Regions from separate parts of the Homo sapiens genome. Here all the other regions are linked to region 4. The links come from fine-mapping of genetic effects on gene expression. A gene starts in region 4. Each other region holds a variant in brackets. All regions are shown on one strand. Distances are from middle to middle. Region 1 holds the start of LOC124900217 (collagen alpha-1(III) chain). Region 2 has its middle 35 kb from the start of CITED2. Region 3 has its middle 23 kb from the start of NHSL1-AS1. Region 4 holds the start of NHSL1 (NHS like 1).

What was found.
Region 1: its variant is fine-mapped to the expression of NHSL1 in whole blood (INTERVAL, PIP above 0.99).
Region 2: its variant is fine-mapped to the expression of NHSL1 in gastroesophageal junction (GTEx, PIP 0.95).
Region 3: its variant is fine-mapped to the expression of NHSL1 in whole blood (TOPMed, PIP 0.98).

What each region holds. Positions count from the first base shown.
Region 1 is chr6:138,691,468-138,694,154 of GRCh38, reverse strand. It overlaps LOC124900217 (collagen alpha-1(III) chain), which reads right to left and starts at 1,429. Exons shown (of 2, transcript XM_047419637.1): 1 at 1-1,429. The coding sequence starts at 1,392. The coding sequence ends at 463. It overlaps NHSL1-AS1 (NHSL1 antisense RNA 1), which reads right to left and starts at 2,487. Exons shown (of 4, transcript NR_033896.1): 1 at 2,187-2,487. It also overlaps a transcript of NHSL1 not described here. RefSeq lists silencers at 641-780, 821-880, 1,361-1,710, 1,721-1,770 and an enhancer at 1,893-2,687. The variant A/G (reference allele first, on the strand shown) is at 1,118.
Region 2 is chr6:139,338,617-139,341,303 of GRCh38, reverse strand. It overlaps the pseudogene LOC100129844. Among named protein-coding and RNA genes, the nearest start is that of CITED2, 35 kb to the left of the region's middle. The variant G/A (reference allele first, on the strand shown) is at 1,105.
Region 3 is chr6:138,713,518-138,716,204 of GRCh38, reverse strand. No RefSeq gene overlaps it. Among named protein-coding and RNA genes, the nearest start is that of NHSL1-AS1, 23 kb to the right of the region's middle. The variant T/C (reference allele first, on the strand shown) is at 1,552.
Region 4 is chr6:138,498,029-138,500,715 of GRCh38, reverse strand. NHSL1 (NHS like 1) reads left to right here and starts at 1,222. Exons shown (of 8, transcript NM_001144060.2): 1 at 1,222-1,483. The coding sequence starts at 1,426.

The DNA.
Region 1 (2,687 bases), 190 kb before region 4:
ACCGACTCCCAAAATGCCGTAAAACAGAGGAGCAACCAGGGTCAACTGGAAAGCAGAAACCAAAGAACCCAGATTCCTTTTCTGAGCAAACACAGCGATGGGCCAGTGGGATTTTAGCTTGGGGATATTGGACCCAGTCTTCTCAAAAACTTCCTACCAGAAGGTTTGTGTTAGCGGGTGTCCCATGACCACGATCTCAATAGCATGTGGCTTACATATCTTCCAGGCTCGAATTCAGGGTTCTAGGTTCTAGTCCTCCACCCCTAACTAACATGCTTGGTGGAAGAAACTCAGATTAGTCACATTTCAGCTTGGACCTTTCCAGCTGTAGTAGCAGGCAGCCACAGGGGGAGTCACCTTGCTGAAAAAAACTCACTGGACGCCCCCTGAAAAGAGGTCTTGAGTTGTTCCGAGTCGGACGCTGACTCCTAGTCGGCTACAGAACCCTTGGCCACCGGACATTTAAAGACGTTCTATTTGAGGTCCACCCGGGCGGCCCAGAAGTGTTGGCCACCTTCCAGAAGGGAAGTAGGAGAGAGCAGGGGGACCCCGAGGGGCCCGGGGCGTTCCCCGCGGGGCGGGGCGCTCCTGACTGCGGAGCGCCGTGGGCAGGGGCGCAGGTGAGCAGAGCGAGCGGAGCTGGCCGCGGCCGTCCTGGCGCCTCCGCCCTCCCGGCGCCCGCACTGCGCTGCACCCCGGCCCGGGGGGCGGGCGAGGGCTCTGCCCCACCGCCCGGGGGCTGCCAAGGGGAGTTGGGGCGGCGACGTGGGCGTCCCGGGACTGTGCGCCCGCACCCGCCCCGACAGGGTGCGCTGAGGCGCCGGGGCCGCCACTGGCTGCGGGCGCTGGGCGCGGCAGCCGCGGGAGCCGCAGGTGGTTCCCGGGCCGGCCCTTTTCTCCTCCCCCTTTCCTTTCTTTCGCCTCCCCTCCCTCTCGCCCGGTGTCGGCGGCACTTCCCTCGCTTCCTCCTCCCTCTCCAATCCGGAGGGAGGGAAGGAGCAGCCGGCGCTTTCCTGCCCGCCTGCAAACTTCAGCGGGACTCGCGGCTCCCCTCGCCGCCGCGGCCGCCGCCGCCCAGAGCTGCCCCTGGAACTTCCTCTCGCCGCGCGGCCCGCGA[A/G]GCCCTGCGGGTGGAGGAACGCCGCCGGGCGCCAGGCAGCCACGGCTCGGACCCCATTCCTGCCCCGCGCCGCCCGGGTGCCCGCTCGCCCGCGCGCCCGTCCGTCCGTCCGTCCTTCCTGCCCGCCCGGCCTCTCCCCTGCGGGCAGGGGCCGCCAGGCTTCCCTCGGCGCCCCGCCGCTGCCCGGGACTTCCTTTGTGTTGGATGCAGGCTGGCGCCCCGCGCCGACGGGAGGCAGACTGAGGGATCCCGCGCCGCCGGCCCGCCCCCGCCATGCCCTTCCACCAGAGGACCCTGGAGCCCGCGCGGCTGCGCCGGCCCGAGGCGGCGGGGGCCGGGGCTGCGGGCGCGCCACTCTTCCGCTCGCTGGAGCAGGTCAGCTCGCATGCCCTGGGCTGCCTGCTGGCGCAGCTGGCCGACCTGTCGCGCTGCGCCGGGGACATCTTCGGCGAGCTCGAGGGCCAGGCGGCCGCGCTGGGCCACCGCACCGCCGCGCTGCACCGCCGCCTCGACGCCCTGCAAGCCGCCGCTGCGCGCCTGGACCACCGCCGAGTGAAAATCCGTGAGTGGCCGGCGGGCCGGGGGAGGGGAACCGGCGGGGGAGGCACCCGGAGAGCTGCTCCCGCCCGCCCCCTGGCGGCCCTGGGTCGGCGCGGGGGCCGCGGAGCCCCGCGATGTCGGGGTCTCCAGTGGGGACTGCCGGACCCCAGCGGGAGGCTGGGCAGGTGGCAGGGGCGCAGAGCGCTCTGTGACTTTCGGACTCCTGGAGGGTCTTGGCTACCTCGAGAGAGTGGGCGCGGAGGGTGGGAATTGGACAGTCCCCTTGTCTGCTCCTTCTGTCTGTCTGTGTCTGTCTGTTTGGGAGACCCCGGGGCGCTGTAGACAGAGGAGAGCCAAGTTCGTGGGAAAACTGTCACAGGCAGGTAGCCTGTTGGAAAAGCCAGGGGAGAATATAAATTTGGGCATATAGTAGTTACAGTTTTGGAGACTTCAGGACGATCCGTTTGTAAAACCCTGGGGATCTCGGCGAGCGTTGGGGCTGCTTGCCACCTCTCTTCCCGCCGCCTACCTGTGTTCTTACCGACAAGCAAAACTATGCAGACTTTAAGGGTTTTCCCATTTGGCGCAGAATTTTCTTTCTTCTCCCAGACTGACCCACCAGCTCTTTGTGATTCAGAAGACGTTGACCTTGAGTTCAGGCTCTGAATCCCATTCATCTTTGTCCGGCTTCCTCCAACCCTGAAAGTCAAGTCTATGTCCTGATATAGTGATCTCTCCGGTGATCCATTTCATTTCAGCAGCTTAACTGGCTCCGGTGAATGAAGCAACTGGAATTTCCTGCTGGCCCAAAGCAGAGAAACTTTCAGTGTGATGTCTCTGTGGTTTCTCCCTTTTAAGTACGTGAACTTGGTCATAATCCTAAGTGTAAAGAATAAATTGGAGATGGTTGATGGATTGCTGGGTGGGAGGGGAGATGTTGATGTAACACACGCCTAGATTTCAGCAGCTCTGGATGAAATAGTTTTTTCTCCTAGAATCACTTCATATGCAATCTCGAATAGCTCGTTTT
Region 2 (2,687 bases), 840 kb before region 4:
TTCCAAATTTAATGAAAAGCATAAATCTACATATTCAAGAAGCCCAATGAACCCAAAGCACAAGAAATGTGAAGAAAACGACACTAAGGCACATCATAATTAAATTTTCCTAAACAAGTGATAGAACATTGTAAAGCAGAGAAAAACATCACAATATATTTAGGGAAACAAAGATAAGAACTATAGCAGATCTCGTATAAGAAAAAATGCAAGTGAGAAGACAGTGACACACAACATCTTTAATGTACTGACAAAAAAATTATTAAACTGTCAAACTAGAATTTTATACCAAGCAAAATATGTTTCAAGAACTAAGGTGAAATAAAGACTCTTTCACATATACAAAAGCTGAAAATATTTATCAGCAACAGACTTGCTCTATAAGAAATGTCAGGCTGGGCGTAGTGGCTCATGCCCGTAATCCCAGTGCTTTGGGAGGCCAAGGTGGGTGGATCACAAGGTCAGGCAATCAAGACTATCCTGGCCAACATAGTGAAACCCCATCTCTACTAAAAACACAAAAATTAGCTGGGCTTGGTGGTGCGCACCTGTAATCCCAGCTACTCAGGAGGCTTAGGCAGGAGAATCGCTTGAACACGGGAGTCGGAGATTGCAGTTAGCTGAGATCACGCCACTGCACTCCAGCCTGGCAACAGAGTGAGACTCCATCTCACCACAAAAAAAAAAAAAAAAAAAAAAAAAAAAAAAAAAAAGAAATATCAAAGGAAGTTCTTCAACCAAAGACATGAGGAAAAGGGAAGAAAAAGAAGAGATGGGTCAAACAGAAAACAAATGGCAAGATGACAGACTTGAATCTATCAATTATCACATTAAATATAACTTTGTCAAAACATCTCAATTAAAAGTCAGAGATTGTCAAACAGAAAAGAAACACAGGGCCGGGTGCGGCAGCTCACGCCTGTAATCCCAGCACTTTGGGAGGTCCAGGCTGGCGGATCACCTGAGGTCAGGAGTTCGAGGCCGGCCTGACCAAACCCCGTCTCTACTGAAAATACAAAATTAGCTGGGCATGGTGGCACATGCCTGTAATCCCAGCTACTTGGGAGGCTGAGGCAGGAGAATTACTTGAACCCAGGAGGTGGA[G/A]GTTGTGGTGAGCTGAGATCGCGCCATTGCACTCCAGCCTGGACAACAAGAGTGAAACTTCGTCTCAAAAAAAAAAAGAAAAGAAAAGAAAAGAAAAAAACAGAAGACCAAACTATATGCTGCATATAAGAAATGTACTCTCTCTCCATATATATTTTCTTTCTTCTTGATCAGTCTAGCCAGAGATTGACCAATTTCACTGATTTTCTCAAAGTAACTGTTTTTGGTGTTATTCATTTACACACACACACACACACACACACACACACACACACACACGTTAGATGTTAAAAGACAGAAAAAGATAATCTAGCTAACCTTAACTATAAGAAAGTTGTAGTGACTATATTACTACCAGACATGATAGATTTCACAGCCAACAATATTACATGGGATTTTTCAAGTTTATTTCATAATGATAAAAGGTCATAAACAAATCTAAACATTTATGCACCTAATAATAAAATACATTGAGCAAAAAACTGATAGATCTACAGGAGAGGCAGACAAATTATGGTTTGAGATTTAAATATTCCTCTCTTAATAGAAATGATCTGCTGATTACATTTAAACTGAGCGACTCTGCATTTTCTGGATTCTGGATGGTTGCCTTTCATGAGCCCAATCGAAGAAAGAAAATCCTTGGACCAGATGCTTCACAGCTGAAGCCCGTAGGACCGCGGAAGAATACCTTGAAGATATTGTTTGCATCAAAATCACCCAAATTTATGTCTTCCTTATCCAGGTCCTGCCCACTGTGATAATGAATCGTTTTCTTGGAATCAAAGAGGATGATAAAGACCTCGCCACTTCCTTGATCTTCTCCTCCTCCTTTTGAACCCCAGCGCTGGCTCCATCATGACGATGTGGATGGTACTTCAAGGCCTGTTTCCAATAAGCTTTCTTGATCTTGTCCTCAGAGGCATTCTTGTCACTTCCAGAACCTTGTAGTAATTATCCCTCTTACTCTTCTTCAGTTCCAGCTGTGCATTTTTTAGGAGCTGTTTGTATTCTTTTGTTTTCTCCATCTGATATACTTTTTTCATAGCCTCGCACTGTTTCTTCATACTGTTCTGTGTCCAAGAAACACTGAGCTCTTCTCAAGTAGGCTTTTATGTAAGTGTCATGAGCTTCACTGCATTTGTGCAGCTGTCTATTGCATCATCTAGTTTCCCAAGCTCGGAATTAACCATATCCCGGTTACAGTAGAGTTTAGCAATTGCTTTTATGTTGTCGGGGTCTACCCCGGGGGTTCTGCGTACAGTTCATCAGCTAGTTTGTAATTTCCTTCCCTAAACGCTTTATTCCAGTCTTCTTTCTTTGCGTTAAGTGCTCTGGCATTTCTGCACGCAAGGCAGGCCTTCTCATGGTCAGGAACCACTCTGAGAGCCTGTACAAAAAACTGAACAACTGCCTACTCAGTACAATCTTCATAATAAAGGCAAGGTCCGCGTACATACAGAGCATCCACATTGGTGGAATCCGTTCATAAAATGTCACTGGCCACAGACTGTGCTTCTGGATAACGACCCAGCATTGCTAAACATTCTGCTTTGAGGGATATTGAAGTGATGGCAGACAGG
Region 3 (2,687 bases), 220 kb before region 4:
AGCCCCAGTCTAGCTACATCTAGCCCCAGTCTAGCAACATTTAGGCAATGCTGCCAGGACTCATTTTGCTTCTCAATTTCACTCTTTTACTGCAGGGCAACTTCTTTATTTTAAGAGTTCTTTGTATTCTAATACAAGTCCTTTATTAGATATGTGCTTTGCAAGTATTTTCTCCCAATCTATGGTCTGTCTTCTATTTCTCTTAACAGTATCCATCAAAGAGCATTTTTAAATTTTGATTAAGTCCAATATATTAGTTTTTAAAAAATGGATCATCATTTTGGTGTTGTATCTAAGAAATCACTGCCTAACCCATGGCCACAAAGATTTTCTCCTATGTTAGCATCTAGAAGTTTTTTAGCTTTAGGTTTTACATTTAGGTCAATGATCAATTTGGGGCTAATTTTTGTATATGGCACATGGCATGGATAAAAGGTTATTATTATTGCATATGGATGTTTTATTATTCCAGCACCATTTTTTGAAAAGATGATCCCTTCTCCACTGAATTGCCTTTGCACCTTTGTTGAAAATCAGTTTTCCATTTATGTGTGGGCATGTTTCTCCACTCTCTTTTCTGTTTCACTGATTTATTTGTCTACCTTTACTTCTATCTCACACTGTCTTGAACACTATATCTTTATAGGAAGCATTGAAATCAGGTAGAGTTAGCTCTCCAACTTTGTTTTGCTTTTTCAAAGTTGTTTTGGCCATTCAGGTCTTGATATGGTTTGGGTCTGTGTCCCCGCCCAAATCTCATGTTGAATTGTAATCCCTAGTGTTGGAGGAGGGGCCTGGTGGGAGGTAATTGGATCATGGGGGTGGACTTCCCCCTTGCTGTTCTCATGATAGTGAGTTCTCACGAGATCTGCTTGTTTAAAAGTATGTAGCATTTCCCCCTTCCCTCTTTCTTCACAAGCTCTGTCATGTGAAGATGTGCCTGCTTCCCCTTCACCTTCCACCATGATTGTAAGTTTCCTGAGGCCTCCCCAGCCGTGCTTCCCGTACAGCCTGCAGAATTGTGAGTCAATTAAACCTCTTTTCTTCATAAATTATCCAGTCTCAGGTAGTTCTTTATAGCGATAAGAGAATGAACTGATACAGAAAATTGGTACCGGGAAGTGGGGCATTGCTATAAAGATACCTGAAAATGTGGAAGCATCGTTGCAACTGGGTAATGGGCAGAGGTTGGAACAATTTGGAGAGCTCAGAAGAAGACAGGAAGATGAGGGGAAGTTTGGAACTTCCTAGAGACTTGTTAAATTGTTGTGAACAAATGCTGATAGTAATATAGACAGTGAAGTCCAGGCTGAGGTGGTCTCATACAGAGATGTAGAACTTACTGGGAGCTGCAGTAAAGGTTGCTCTTGCTATGCTTTAGCAAAGAGACTGGCAGCTCTAGGGATCTTTGGAACTTTGAACTTGAGAGAGATGACTTAGAGTATCTGGCAGAAGAAATTTCTAAGCAGCAAAGCATTCAAGATGTGGCCTGGTTGCTTCTAACAGTATATACTCATATGCATGAGCAAAGAGATGACCTGAAATGGAAAC[T/C]TAGATTTAAAAGAAAAATTGAAAGAACTTCAAAGAAAATAACTTTCTCAAAATTTAATGAAGCATCTGTGCACCAAATAAAATCCTGTCACAGACTGCCAGAGATTCTGTTTCAAACTTTGGGAAACATTGGCATGATGTTTCCCAGCTCTTGAGTCCAAGTTCTTGAGGCCAGCAGGCTACGTTTAAATCTAGGGTCTTTCCCTCAGGTACTAGCCGTTTGCTGCTATGCTTCCCCTCTGAATCTGTTTCCTTACCTGCAAAATAACAGTACTAATAAAATTGCCTGTTTGTAGATATAAAATGAGATGAGGCATAAAAAGCCCTTGGCATAATCCCCAGTAAATGGTAGGTGCCTTGAAAATGTCAGTCATTTTTAAGGCAGGAAATCAGTGTCATAACTCAAAAATATGGGCCCTTTCTGTTATGGTCAGCTTTCTACTCTCCATTCTTACCCTCAAGTTTGAGACACTTGGCCTTGACTTAATCTCTTCACTCTCAAGGTGTAAAAGCACTTCACCAAACCTTTTATTTCAACAATAGAATCAGGACCATGACTCATGTATAAGTGACTGTGCAAGTTGATCTGGGTGGGATTGTGAGCCAGATCATCCAGAGTCAGTCTTCGCTTGCCATAATTGTCATGGTATCATTACTAACAGATATTTAGGGGTGAGCACCCATTATGGGTAAAACTCCATGACAGCTTCTGGGAGCACTATTCTAGATGGTCATAGTGAGCTTTTGGCTGGATGTCTGCAACACACTCTAAGAGGCCAACTGGAAGCTGTGGACCAGGCAGACTAGAGCCACTTTGCAGTGGAGAGGCACAAACTACAAGGAATAAAATTATAGGTTGCTAGAATTGTAGTCTACATTTCCCTTTGGCTGCCTGTTTGTTTCTCGATATAATTTGAGGTGTTGACTATAGACCACAAAAACCTAGGTGGTTTTGGGTACCAAGCTGTCTTATGAATTACCTTTCTCTCTTTCTAACTTCCCGGTAGCTAAGATTAGCAAGCATGGTTGGGATTATAATTGCTGCATTTAAACTACAGAAAGACTGTTCTTTGATGAAAGATTCTCATATTTCATAAATGTTCTAGTTTGATAAAACTTTAATGTCCTTACCAACA
Region 4 (2,687 bases):
AAATAAAGGGCATAAAAAGACCTGAGAAGGAATCATTTCAAAGCTTTCCCTAGACAGAGCCCCTTATATAAATTTTATTCTTTGACTAAGAGCCTTTGTTATAAACTAAATGTTTTGAATTAGTGGATTATTACATTTTTCCATTGAGTTATAAGTCTGGCCCAAAGCTATGAAATAAGAGGTTGTCTAAATTGTTTCAAAAGTGTTTGGCCATGAAGTGGAACTGGGCTGAGATGTGAGGAAGATTCTTTTCCTTTTTCCGTTGTCATAGTATTTCCGGATCTATATTCTCCTCTTTTTTCCTATCCCTTTACCCCTGGAATATGTTTTTTCAGTGCCTTCTTATACTCTGTTTCTGATTTCTCTGTCTCTACTTGTGCTTCCCTAGTTCTCTGTGGTTAATTGCCAATGGGCAAAAGAACCAGCACTCTGGATGGTAGATTCAAGTTAAAGAGTAACTCAGATAATGTTTGTTTGAGACAACATTGAGGGAAGGGCGATTATGGAATTCTGAAAACCAGGAGCCTAAGTGACAATTACATATAAAATAAAGATTAAAATGATTAGGGTACTTTATCTAATTTATCATTTGGAGTGGGGAAGTTGTATTTTTTTTGGTGGATTTTTTTTTTTCTTGATTGTTGTGGCAGCTAGATGCAAATAAGATCATGCTTTGGAACACACAATGCTGATTCTCAATCACTGGCAAAGAAGGGTGAGAAGACAGAGCATCCTAATTTGCACAAAAATGCAACCAAGTCATCATTTGCAGCTCCTTGGAGATTCTATTCTAAAGTTTTACTGCTTGTACAAGTTCCTTTGGTATCGGAGGCAGAGCCTGGGGCGTGGTTGGGAAACAATAGTTTGGTTTTTTTCCCCCCTAAATCAGTTCAAATCCCATATACCCTGAATTAACTGGAATTGCTGTCAGACTTGGCAGCTCCTGTAAAAGATCTGGGTGTTCATAGGGGCCTAATGAAATGGGGAACACATTTGTTTCATCTTGACTTCCGTAGAGGAAAGTCTGCACTATTTTTGTGGGCTCAGAGAGGAGGAACTTCTGATCTGTTGGAGAGAAAACTGAATGAATGGGCACTGAGGCAGAAAGCCTGATGTGGCTGTCATGCAAATAAGAACCGTGATTGGCTTTCTCTTTCTTTCAGCGCACGATGTCACTGGCTGCTCTCAGCCTTAAAGATTAGGTTTCAGTAGGAGTTTTTCAGGTTCAAGGACTGTTAATGGTTTGTAACTGCCTGACAATAAACTCAACCTCAGTTACATCAGCCTGGGCAGATGTCTAAGGATATGAGACCGGGGGAAGAAAAAGTTAGAATCTGTAGCAGAAGGACGAAGCTTGCCACCTGCCTACTGGGCTGAGCTTTTAATGTGATTTACATTTCTAAGCTCTATGTAGGTGCCCTGGAAATGGTGGTCTTCATTAATGCAAAGATTAAGTCTTTAATTAAACTTTTTAAGAAGAAAAGTAAGTAGTTCCTTTTCTCTCTACTACCTATTGTGTGCATATGTTTCCATATGTGTATATGTCCCTGTGTGTCTGTGTGTGTGTGTGTGTGTGTGTGTCCATGTGTGTGTTTTAGGTCCTTCGTTCTTTTGTGTGAAGAAATTAGAGTGTGAAACAGCGTAATAGGCATGAGTTAAACTCTACTCTATACCAGGTTGTTTAAATACCTCAGACTTTTGTAACTCTAGGACAGTATTATGTGATCTTAGCATGTCTTATTTATTTATGATTGGGGTTTTAAGTGAATTCACTTCTTCTGTGCTTTTCAAAAGAAGTCCTTTGAAGAGGGGGGAAATTCTTGTACTTAATTTATGTTTCCCTTGATATCAAGTGTATGATTTTTTGATTCTTTGGATAAATATGCAGCTGAGGTAAGGGAGCCTCTGTGTAATGTATCACATATTTCTGGTGGAGATAATCCCCTGAAACTCCCTGGCACTCTTTGTTGTGTATTTAAGAGCTCGAGCACAAACTGTCTAGACTGATCAGTGATTGTTGTAAGGTACAGAACTTTTGTGATGTGGCTTTATTGTGTACTTACCATTGACTTACATTTCTTTAATGTAGGTGCTTCTTCATTCTCTTGAAAATAATAATTTTTATAACTACTTGGCTTTGTTTTTACATAGTCGGTGGTTTATTTTATTTTAGTTTAGTTTAGTGTTTGGACCAGTGACTTATACTGGATAAATGAACATGGGTAGGGGCATTGGTAAGAGGAGCTTTGGAGAAAGCTACAAAGAGCAGCACGGTGGGCTGATTTTCTGCAGCTCCTTGCTAAAGGCTGCCTTTGGATGAACAGATTAAAAGTGGCCCTGGCGAGAGTGAGGAACACGAGGGGAAGAGACTTTTTCATAGGAGCCAGTTGGTAGCTGTGCAGTGGGGCCGATGGTGCGATTGATGGTGCAGACACGAATGCCATTACTTGGATTTGATTTGAAATTGTCGAATAGGAAAAGTTTCCATTTTCAATAGTTTCTAACTCTGAAGTATGGTAACTCAGTCTTTAAAATAAATGGACATCAGCACAAAACACTGTGATGAACTCTGGCTACACTTTGGGGGGACATATGGTGAGTTTGGCCCAATGCTAGATTCTTCTGAAACACAAATGAGGGTTAAGTCAGGTCTTTGTGGATTTTGTGTATTAAGATTGATAGTTGTA